Regions from separate parts of the Homo sapiens genome. Here all the other regions are linked to region 3. The links come from fine-mapping of genetic effects on gene expression. A gene starts in region 3. Each other region holds a variant in brackets. All regions are shown on one strand. Distances are between the middles of the regions.

Region 1 (2,685 bases), 700 kb after region 3:
TATGAAGTTAACAACTGTACAACCACCAGTTGAAGCAATGGAATCTTGCCAGTTTCCCAGAAGTTCCCTGTGTGTTCCTTCCTGATACAATCTATGCCCAACTTTCTAGAAGAAGCCACAATTGTGGTAGCCAGCTTCACAGATGGCCCCCAGTGATTCTCTCCTTCTGGTCTTCATACCCACCCAGGATTGTTCCAAGGTGGGCCAGTGCGACCAATAGAATATACAGAAACAGTGCGATGTTGTATTCCAGATTGGGTTATAAAAGACTGTGGCTCCCATCTTGGGCTTGCTCACTCTCTCATGGATGAATCACTCTGGGGGAAGCCAGTTGCCATGTCTTGACGACACTCAGGCAGCCCTGTGGAGAGGCCCCGGTATCCAGGAACTGAGGCCCTCCTTCCAAAAGCCCTTAGAGAACTGAGGCCTGCCAACAACCATGTGGGTGAGCTGGGAGGCAGATCCTCTGCCTTTCAGATGACTGCAGCCCTGGCCCACAGCTTAACTGCAGGCTCATGAGAAATCCTGGGCCAGAATCACCCACCTAAGCTGCTCCTGGATTCCTGACTCTCAGAAACTGCGTGAGATAACAGCCATGTGAGCTGTTTTAAGCTGCTGAGTTTGGGGGTAATTTTTTAGCAGAGTAATAGACAACTAACATAACTATTCTGACTTTTATAATAATAATTTCCTTCTTTATCATTACAATTTTACCACCAATATGTATGCATCTCTAAACAAGATAGTTTAGGTTTGCATATTTTTACCTATTTTATACATGTATTTTAAAATTGGGTCTTATCTCGATATTAGGCATATCCCTATAGTTGCATATAGCCAGCGCTCATTTTATTTGCAATCTAGAGATTCATTGTATGAATACACCACTTACATACGTATCTGTTCTCCTGTTCGTGGTCATCGGTGTTGTCCTGGGTTTGAGACTATTATGAAAACTGCTGCAGTGAATATTATGGGCATGTTTCCTGGTGCACATTCCACAGGCTTCTCTAAGTTGACCTTGTAGTGCACTCGCTGGCTAAAGGACATCGGCATCTTCACTTTTTCTTTAACATTACTAGATAATGGCCAAACCTCATCAAATAATGCCAGATTATACTCCAATCTGCAGGACGTGAAAGTTCCCATTATTTTACATCCTTGCCAATCCGTGGTATTATTGGTCTTTCTGATTTTTGCCCATCTGGTGAGTATGTAAGTGATATCTCATTGGGATTTTAATTTTGCATTCCCTGGGAGTCAAGAGGTTGTGCACTCTTTCATTTATTGATTGACTACTTGAATTTC[CT/C]TTTTTTTTTTTTTTTTTTTGAGAGATGGAGTCTCACTCTCTCATCCAGGCTGGGGTGCAGTGATGCGATCTCGGCTCACTGCAACCTCTACCTCCTAAGTTCAAGCGATTCTCCGCCTCAGCTTCCCAAGTAGCTGAGATTACAGGTGTGTGCCACCACACTCAGCTAATTTTTGTATTTTTTAGTGGAGACATGGTTTCACTAAATGTTGGCGAGGCTGGTCACGAACTCCTGACCTCAGGTGATCTGCCTGCCTTGGCCTCCTGAAGTGCTGGGATTACAGGCATGAGCCACTGCGTCCGGCCTGAATTTCCTTTTTAGTGACATGCTTGTTCAAGTATTTTATCCATTTTTAAGAAATTAGTTGTCTTTATTTATTTGTAGCAGTTCTTTACATATTCTGGACACTAGCCCTTTGTTGTTATATGCTATACAAATATCTTCTCTTACTCTGTAGTTTATCTTTTCACTCTCTAAAGCCTAATGATGTCTTTTGATAAAAGAAATTATTTTACTGTAATAGGGTTTATTAATCTTTTCCCATATTTGTTTTTTAACATGTAGGTTTTTTTCGTAGTTGATTTTATTAGTCTTTGCCATTATAGTTCCTGACTTTTGAAATCCTGTTTAGAAAGGCATCCCTACTCTGAGATTACACAAATATTCACCTACATGTGGTGGTTTTATTTTTATGTTTTCATTTAAAAATATTTAAACCATTCATCTGAAATTTTTTTAAAGCTTTGGTTATAACATTTTTTTTCCCTGAATGTGATGAATACGGTTAGCAAATTTACAGAATAATCTGACCTCTTCCTACTGTAAATGCTACCCGTATTATGAAGTGGGATCCTATATATTGGCTGTATTTCTGAGCTTTCTCTTTTGTTAATTGCTCATTCTGTTGATTCTGGCACTTTCTGACACCTACTTGTAGTTGTTGTGCTCTGCGGGACACATCTGATAGGGCCTGCTCCTGCACGTTACTCTTGTTTTTCGGCATTGTCCTGACATTTTTTACATTTTTGTTTTCTAGATGAGCTTTAGGATCCCTTTAATATTAACATAATTATTTTTGGCTGTGTTGTAGATTTGTCTGTGACTTGTTAGAAATTAGTGTTCCCACTTAGGAATGTGGCATGTCTTGCCATTTACTTTTGAATCTTTTTATGTCCCTCAGAAAAATTTTGTAGGTTTCATTTCAATAGAGGTCTGGCAAATTCTTATTCTAAGTTTTTAAAATTTTTTGTTTCTGGTGTGAATTGGCCCTTTTCTCCTATGCGTTTTCTGATGCATAGGTTTTCAAACCTCCACTCCTTCAGCGATAAAGGCTCCCAAGGAGTGGCTGAAGGCTGGGGAGCATCGCAGCTCTGCC
Region 2 (2,685 bases), 24 kb after region 3:
GGGTAATGAAGGAGATACAGCTTCAGAGGTATCCAGGTCACGCACAGTGGGTGAGACTATTCCACCCCAGGCCTCCGTAACACTCTTCAGGATGGGAGGGACAGATCACATTTGTCTTGAAAAACCGTCATTCTAACAAAAGTGCATGTCTGTTCCTGTCAGTTGCTATGGATTTGAAGAAGTTAGCAGAAAGGAAGTGGTTAAGCTAAAACATGAGCTATTCAGCTGTCCTGGATTCAACCAGGGAGCTTATCGTTAGCACGTAATCAAGGCATTTGCTTAATGAAGTGATTATTTGTTTAAATCATGGTGTTAACTGATAGGAGATTTCACAATTTCATAGCAGTAATGTCCTGGGAAGGGAAAGTGTTTTATTGATAGTACTAGCTCTGCTTATTCAATTTCAGGATCTATGGATGAAGTGTTGGCCTCCTTAAGGCATGGCAGAGCTCCTCTCCGGAAGGTGGAAGTGCCGGCGGTGCGCCCTCCCCACGCCTCAATCAATGAGCACATTCTGGCTGCCATAAGGCAAGGGGTCAAACTGAAGAAAGTTCACCCTGATCTTGGCCCAAACCCCAGCAGCAAACCAACCAGCAACAGACGCACCAGTGACCTTGAGAGGAGCATCAAGGCTGCGCTCCAGAGAATCAAGAGGGTGTCTGCTGACTCTGAGGAGGACAGTGATGAGCAGGACCCTGGCCAGTGGGATGGTTAGGCTCAAGTTTGACAAAGGCACCTGCCACAGTAGGCTTGAATAAAGTGGGTGAGTCTTAGACCTATCGAAAAGCATACTAACAGGGTGCTGATAGATGGGCCACATAACACCCCGGAAGATCAGCAGGGCCTTGTGTAGGCTGCTGCAGCATTTTTTTTTTTTTTCTTTTTTGAGATGGAGTCTCACTCTGTCGCCCAGGCTGGGGTGCAGTGGCGCCATCTCGGCTCACCGCAAGCTCCGCTTCCCAGGCTGGGGTGCAGTGGTGCGATCTTGGCTCACTGCAAGCTCCGCCTCCTGGGTTCACGCCATTCTCCTGCCTCAGCCTCCCGAGTAGCTGGGACTACAGGCGCCACCACCTTGCCCAACTAATTTTTTGTATTTTTTAGTAGAGACGAGGTTTCACCGTGTTAGCCAGGATGGTCTCGATCTTCTGACCTCGTGATCCGCCTGCCTCAGACTCCCAAAGTGCTGGGATTAC[A/G]GGTGTGAGCCACCACGCCCAGCCTTTTTTTTTTCTTTCTTTTGAGACAGAATCTCTCTGTCATCCAGGCTAGAGTGCAGTGGCACGATCTTGGCTTACTGCAACCTCCACCTCCCAGGTTCAAGCAATTCTCTGTCTCAGCCTCCCGAGTAGCTGGGATTACAGGCATGCACCACCACGCCTGGCTAATTTTTGTATATTTAAGTAGAGACAAGGTTTCGCTATGTTGGCCAGGCTGGTCTTGAACTCCTGACCTCGTGATCCACCTGCCTTGGCCACCCAAAGTGTTGGGATTATAGGCATGAGCCACCGTGCCTGGCTGATGCTGGAGCTTTTATGTGACATGGTGACTCTTAAAACTGGGGAGGGACGTAGAGATGAGAGTTTCACACACCAGCCCATAGGTGGGATGTCAAGACCCATCGGAAGTGTCGCTGGCCTAAGAGAAGAGCACTTATTTCTCACCATGGCTGATCTAGAATTGTTCCCTGATTCTGAAAGAAGTTTACACTACACTGGTAAGCAGTACTATTAGACTACTGACTGTGGCCTTCTGTGCATATGGAATAATGATTTCTCAGATTTGTAGGCTTGAATGTGAATGTTATTTTATCAGTAATCAGAATAAATTGCTTATATTCAGGAGTTATTTTAAATATTTAAATGAAATTTATTTTAGGCACCAAGCACTACATAAACTCATAATAACTATTTGCAATGCATTAGCATCACTCACGGGGTAATGAAAACATACCTTAGCTGCTGTAAAAGCAAAGTCTTCCGTGTCCGGGTGGGCTGAAAGTTTTTAATAAAATTTTAGCTAAACATTTGTTTAAGTGAATACTAAGGATGGAGCAATAGTGTTATTTTCCTCAGGAACTGAAGTCTCATGCTGAAGTATTTTCTCCTTAAAATTAAATTTTTAAAATCAGGGAAGGGGAAGGGACTGATGCAAAGCAGTCCGTTCATTTCTCAGACTGCGAGCATCCCTACTAACCTCATCACCCTCACTCTGGTGATATTACTCCTGGGTCTCCACAGAACAAAAGGAACGCACCTCGTTTACAAAGAAAGTCCTGATTGATATAGAACAGAAATCTTCCTACTTCAGTTTTTTTGTTTTTTTTTTTGAGACAGAGTCTTGCTCTGTCAACCAGGCTGGAGTGCGGTGGCACGATCTCAGCTCACTGCAACCTCTGCCTCCTGGGTTCAAGTGATTCTCCTGCCTCAGCCTCTCGAGTAGCTGGGACTACAGGCGTGTGCCACCACACCCAGCTAATTTTTATATTTTTAGTAGAGATGGGGTTTCACCATGTTGGCAGGATGGTCTCGATCTCTTGACCTCGTGATCCTCCCACCTTGGCCTCCCAAATGCTGGGGGTTACAGGCGTGAGCCACCACACCTGGCCTTCCAGTGTCTTAACTAACTGGTACACAGCAGCCTGAGGGGCCTCAGTTGGCACAGCTGGGAGGGGCGTGAGTCCCTTTCAGC
Region 3 (2,685 bases):
AAAAGTTTATCTCTCCAAGAAGACTGAGTGACTGAGTCCCAGGGCCCAATCCCCAACCCTCACACCGGCAGCAGGCATAAAAGGGGAGGGACCTTCAGACAAAGGCACCTTTCCATCTTCAAGTTGCATTCCACAGAGGTTCCTAGATTTCTTGAGGTCATTTTCAAGGCAGAGAGATGCCCTAACTAGAGCTTTAGCTTCGCCCTGATTTTTTCGTTTGCTTATTGTTTACCCTTGGGGATAACAGCAAGTACAAAATCTGATTCCAACTTTTCCCAGCTCAAAACCTTCACAAACACTTTCACTTGTTCCCGAATCAACACCTCACAGGCCTTGCTTTGGCAAACGGCTCCTGATCCCAGCTTCCTGGCATCTCCCTCCTTTCCTCCTCCCATTCCCACCACCTGTCTCAGTGCACTCCCAGGATGGGAGCTGACATGGACTGTATTTCTCAGTCTACACTGCACATTTCCTAGGCAGAGACTAGGGCCGTCTTGGTGCTTGTTGCATGAACAGATTTAGCTCCACCCTGACACGTAAACTGGATTTCCTGATATCTCCTTAAACAGGCCTTCCGTAGCCAGGGGGGCATGTCGAGCCCGAGTGTCGGTGTATCTTAAGTTTGTCTGGGCCTCCGTTTCCTTAACTCTAAAGTGAAGAGTTAGAACACAGATTGTATTTAAACACCCTGGTTGGGAGCTGCAGTGCCCTGAATTCCCCCTCTTACTCCACCCCCTCAATACTGACACACAGCCGACACTCAATAAAAGTTTGTTGAATTGACAAAAATAAATTTGCGGCTTCTTGCCCAGTACTTGGCACTTAGAGGCCCTCAATAAATGACTATCGAGTTTATATTTCATCTCCCCAACGCATTTGTGACATTCTTAAGGGCGTGAACCATGTACTCAATAGGGCCCTGATGATAGAAAAGAAAATCAGCTTGGTCCCTGTTCTCAAGTTCATAGTTTAGTGTGGGAGACTAATACAATAACTCGCCGATTCAACAGATATTTTTCCAACGTCCGTATGTATTGGGTGGAAAAGGTGAGGCAAGAGTTGTATTTCCCAGACTCCTGAACAGGTTGCGAGATGATTGACTCCTGAGGGAGACCTTCTCACCTTTTCATTGGTTGTCGCTGGCCCTCTCGTCTATCACCCAACCAACCCCGAATGCCTCTTGTAAGCCCCACCTCCGGCAGCCAGCCAATCAGAAGTGCCGGGGGCCAGGGTGCTGCTGGGGCACTGACGCGGTTTCGATTCTAGCGAAAAATGATTTGGCTCGGACTGTCCCGTGACAGGCGGTGCGAGGAGGCCAGGCCCGCGCCCGCCGAGCCCTAGGGCCGCTGCTGCCGACAGCCATGGAGGACGAGCAGCCTGACAGCCTGGAGGGCTGGGTGCCGGTCCGGGAGGGCCTCTTCGCCGAGCCCGAGAGGCACCGGCTGCGCTTCCTGGTGGCCTGGAACGGCGCGGAGGGCAAGTTCGCTGTGACTTGTCACGACCGTACCGCGCAGCAGCGGCGGCTGCGCGAGGGGGCCCGGTTGGGGCCCGAGCCCGAGCCCAAGCCTGAGGCCGCCGTCTCCCCGTCCAGCTGGGCCGGCCTGCTCTCGGCCGCGGGGCTCCGCGGCGCGCACCGGCAGTTGGCGGCGCTGTGGCCGCCTCTGGAGCGCTGCTTCCCGCGGCTGCCGCCGGAGCTGGACGTGGGCGGCGGCGGGGCCTGGGGTCTGGGGCTCGGGCTGTGGGCGCTGCTGTGGCCGACGCGCGCGGGTCCCGGCGAGGCGGCGCTGCAGGAGCTGTGCGGGCAGCTGGAACGCTATCTGGGCGCGGCGGCCGACGGCTGCGGCGGCGCCACAGTGCGCGACGCACTCTTCCCGGCTGAGGGCGGCGCGGCCGACTGCGAAAGCCCGCGCGAGTTCCGGGAGCGGGCCTTGCGCGCGCGGTGGGTCGAGGCGGACGCGCGGCTGCGCCAGGTAAGCGAGGCCCGGTCGCCGGCGTTCGTCCGCGCTTCCATGGCCTGGGACACTGTGGGAGGCTCCCCCGGCGCCGAGAGCCCTGGCTGACGGCTGACGGGGAGGAGCCGGCGGGCGGAGAAGGCCGCGGGCTCCCCAGTGCCGTCACCTGCGCGGGACCGCTGCGGGAAACCGGCGGGAGCTGCGGGAGGGTCTGCAGAGAGGACAAGCGAAGTTAGAGCCTAGTGTACTTGCAGCTGGGAGCTGGGCTAGGCCCCCAACTTTTGCCCTGAAGATGCTGGCAGAGCAGGATGTTGTAACAGGAAATGCCAGAAATATTGCAAGCAAGACTGAAAACAACCCATCCATGTAGGAAAGAATAACACGGACTAAATGTAAGCAATTCCTGTGTATGAGGGGACGTCGCAAATGGGATAAAATGGTTTAGAGGAAGAAATGGCTTTTAGGAGATAGGGTGTTTTGTTTTAAGTAATATATACTTGGTCAAATGGAAAGCCGGCAGAAGGTGAACTTTATTCATCAGTTTGGAATGACCGCATTAGTGCCCTTTTAAGCTTGAAAGAGGTAGTTTGAGAGAGAGTAATTATTTGAGTGGTAAACTTACTGAACCTAAGGGGAGGGGAAGTACAAGTTCACAGAAGGGTTTAGGAGAAAATATGCCTTCTAAGTCCACACCCACAGTTTATTAAGGAGAGCCAGGCTGGAGTCTCGGCTC
Region 4 (2,685 bases), 38 kb after region 3:
TCTCTGCCCTGTTCTCTCACCCAATTAAAGTCTAATGTGATGGCAGGCAGGAGAGATGAAACTGAGGGGCCACACAAGTTCGAGGTCTTGTGTGGATACTGGTTCTCTTTCCCTCCAAGGCCTGACCATACTGTCCCAACCTGTTGCTCTGGTGGTTTTACATTCCCCGGGCGGCACTAGGAAGGCTTCCTCGCCACTCCCAACTTTAAAATGCATCCAGCTGGGTCTTGACTGGAATGAAAGGTTATTTTTAAAGGTCCTCTTGGTTAAAGGGTTCCAAGTTTTAGTTGATCTTTTTTAGACACCAGGTTTCATGGAGGCAGAAGGAAAGCTTATCAAGGTATAGCAGCCAGTCTTGGAAACACCAAAATCAGGAGACCTCAATTGCAAACTGAAAATGCAGTCCTGGCCCTGCAGCTTCCAGGCAGCACAAGCGGCTGCGATGCTCACGAGTGAATGGCTTACATTCTGCCTGAGTCTGGCGTAAGGTTATGACAACAGTACTGAGACTGGGCTGGATGTCAGAATAAACGAGGGCACGTCACACCAGCTCAAGGGAACACCGTCCAGGTTGCTCCAGGGCCACTATTTTAAAAGAAAGTAAATGAAAAGACACTGAGATCTTCAGAGAAAAGCAGAAGGAATGGAAAGTTCAGTGCTTTTGTAAAAGCTGTTGTGCTTTCACGGCCAAGCCCAACTTACCTTTCCCTTTAAGGGAGTCCTTACTACTCTTAGCTCCAGGGTTGCAACAGCTGTAGAGCTGGACACACAGCAGGAGGAATCCAAGTTCCTCACCTGCTGCCCACAGGATGCTCACCACACTCTTCAGTGCTTGGTGAACTGGGATCATGGGTCTCAACTGCACAGCAGCCCACTGTGGAAATGGCTCTTCCAACATTTTCTACACCTCCACTTCTGGAGTTTTCTAAAGTCACTGCTATCAGAATGTACAAGTGGCTTCAGTAACTATTCTATGCATGTCACCTGAGCATTCTCTTGTCAGTCAAGCGGGCTCTTTCTAGATTCATAAGTCACCTGATAAAGGCAGAGGTCATCTGAAGACCCCAGCGGAAGGTGTTTGGAACCCAGTGTCCACTGCTCCCAGGCAGCCACACACCCAGCCTGCTGCTGGGCAGACCAGGCTGGCTTGAGAATCCCCTTATCCCGCTGCTGGGCCACGGGGCTGACTCATAGCCAGCTCGGCTCTCTGGTCTCCTGGTGCAGCCAGGAGGGAGCTGCTACCAACTGTCCTGAGAGCCGTCTGGAGCTCTGGGGAAAGGGAAGGGCCAGCAGCAGACTACCCCGAATCACAAAGATGGCTGGCCACGCTTTCCACTTCCTGTCTGCCAAAAGCCCTATGTACTCAACCAAAGCCCCCACTCACCTTGCGGGAGCTCCTCTAAAAGTGCCTTGGTGCTCCAGATGCCCAGCCTTCCCTTC[C/T]ATCCACATCCCAAACAAGACTCCCCAGCTCAGAGAGGCGTCTCCGTGAGGGGAAGGGAAGGAGAGCAGGAGGACTCGTGTTCACCTTGGGGCCCAGGGCACCTGGGTTCGGACCCCATCTCCCTCCTTCCTCGGGTTGTTTGCTCATTAATCCAAATTCAGCAGGGAGAAAGTCTAACCACGTCCATGGGAGAAGGTTTCTAGAAGGAGTAGTCCTCTTAGGTGGTTCTCAAAGGGGTGAGGGGGCACCAAAGCCTCCCCCCTGCTCAAGGCATTTAGAGATGTGTGGGGCCAGGGATTCAAGCCATTATTGCCACACACGGGCAATCTCCCAGGGCAGGATGCCAACAGCACCCACAGGCCCGCTGGCCCCACTGAGCAGCTCTGTGAGAGAGGAGAGGTTTATGGCTGCAGTCCCTTCCCTAGGAGAAACTGAAAAAGGCAGGACGCAGAGCTGGGTGGAACACCTCTGTCATGAGGGCCAAGGCTTGTCAGCTGAGCTGCTCTCTCCCCCCGAAATGCCTGTGATTTCTTCCCAGCTGTCCAGACCCATAAGACAATCCTACCCTAGGTACCAAGCCCTGGGCAGCCCCTATACCTGGAATCCCTGGGTCACCATTCCTAGGGGAGAAGGTGATTCGAGGGTCTGGAGAGCCCCAGGGGCAGAGCATCACGGATGGGCTCCAGGGGCCTGAGACCAGCTCCTGCTGCTTCCCCTTCTCCCTCCCTGCCCCAGGGCCACCCGAGCCCCAGCTTGGGTTTGACCAGACAGTGGTATTCATGTCTGTTAACTACCCAGCACAGCAAAGATGGTGCATCATTCGACAGGGTCCCAGCTCTGCTGTGGGGTTTGATTAAAACACTAAATTCTGTGTACACATTTAATTGAACAAATATTTATTAAGCACCTACTTTGTGCCAGACATTGTGCTAGGCACCCTCACTGTGTGCTGTTCCCACAGCACAATCATCTGCTCAGAAATTAAAACCAAGAAAAGGAACACTGTTGCAACCGTACAAACTGGGGGGGCGGGGGGCAGGGGGCAGTAGCGTGGATGCAGGCAACTCCGGGCCAGAAAATGCACCCACCAGAAGCTTGTTTTCCATCTCTCAGAAAGTTTCCACTAAACAGTTGTTTTAAAGCCTCTCGATGTTGACAGAGAGGAATGTTGTTCTCTCTGTGCCCCCCGGGGCTGGTGTCTGGTGGACATTCAAATACTCTGAATGCTATTTGATAAAAGGAGC

Alleles and levels. Alleles are on the strand shown, and positions count from the first base shown. SD is a standard deviation of normalised expression in the study named. Not every link is listed here.
For the expression in platelets of the gene that starts at base 1,263 in region 3, allele C in region 1 goes with a lower level than allele CT (moderate effect, 0.61 SD a copy in CEDAR).

What was found.
Region 1: its variant is fine-mapped to the expression of WHAMM in platelets (CEDAR, PIP 0.95).
Region 2: its variant is fine-mapped to the expression of WHAMM in whole blood (INTERVAL, PIP above 0.99).
Region 4: its variant is fine-mapped to the expression of WHAMM in whole blood (TOPMed, PIP above 0.99). The same link has a PIP of 0.9 or more in monocytes.

What each region holds. Positions count from the first base shown.
Region 1 is chr15:83,504,215-83,506,899 of GRCh38, forward strand. The region is part of intron 1 of SH3GL3 (SH3 domain containing GRB2 like 3, endophilin A3); the gene reads left to right. Among named protein-coding and RNA genes, the nearest start is that of SH3GL3, 58 kb to the left of the region's middle. The variant CT/C (reference allele first, on the strand shown) is at 1,309.
Region 2 is chr15:82,832,822-82,835,506 of GRCh38, forward strand. WHAMM (WASP homolog associated with actin, golgi membranes and microtubules) reads left to right here. Exons shown (of 10, transcript NM_001080435.3): 10 at 408-2,685. The coding sequence ends at 715. It also overlaps a transcript of HOMER2 not described here. Among named protein-coding and RNA genes, the nearest start is that of WHAMM, 25 kb to the left of the region's middle. RefSeq lists an enhancer at 1-664. The variant A/G (reference allele first, on the strand shown) is at 1,194.
Region 3 is chr15:82,808,366-82,811,050 of GRCh38, forward strand. It overlaps WHAMM (WASP homolog associated with actin, golgi membranes and microtubules), which reads left to right and starts at 1,263. Exons shown (of 10, transcript NM_001080435.3): 1 at 1,263-1,970. The coding sequence starts at 1,362. RefSeq lists silencers at 1,519-1,648, 1,669-1,778, 1,999-2,168.
Region 4 is chr15:82,846,663-82,849,347 of GRCh38, forward strand. HOMER2 (homer scaffold protein 2) reads right to left here. Exons shown (of 9, transcript NM_004839.4): 9 at 2,321-2,685. Among named protein-coding and RNA genes, the nearest start is that of WHAMM, 38 kb to the left of the region's middle. The variant C/T (reference allele first, on the strand shown) is at 1,441.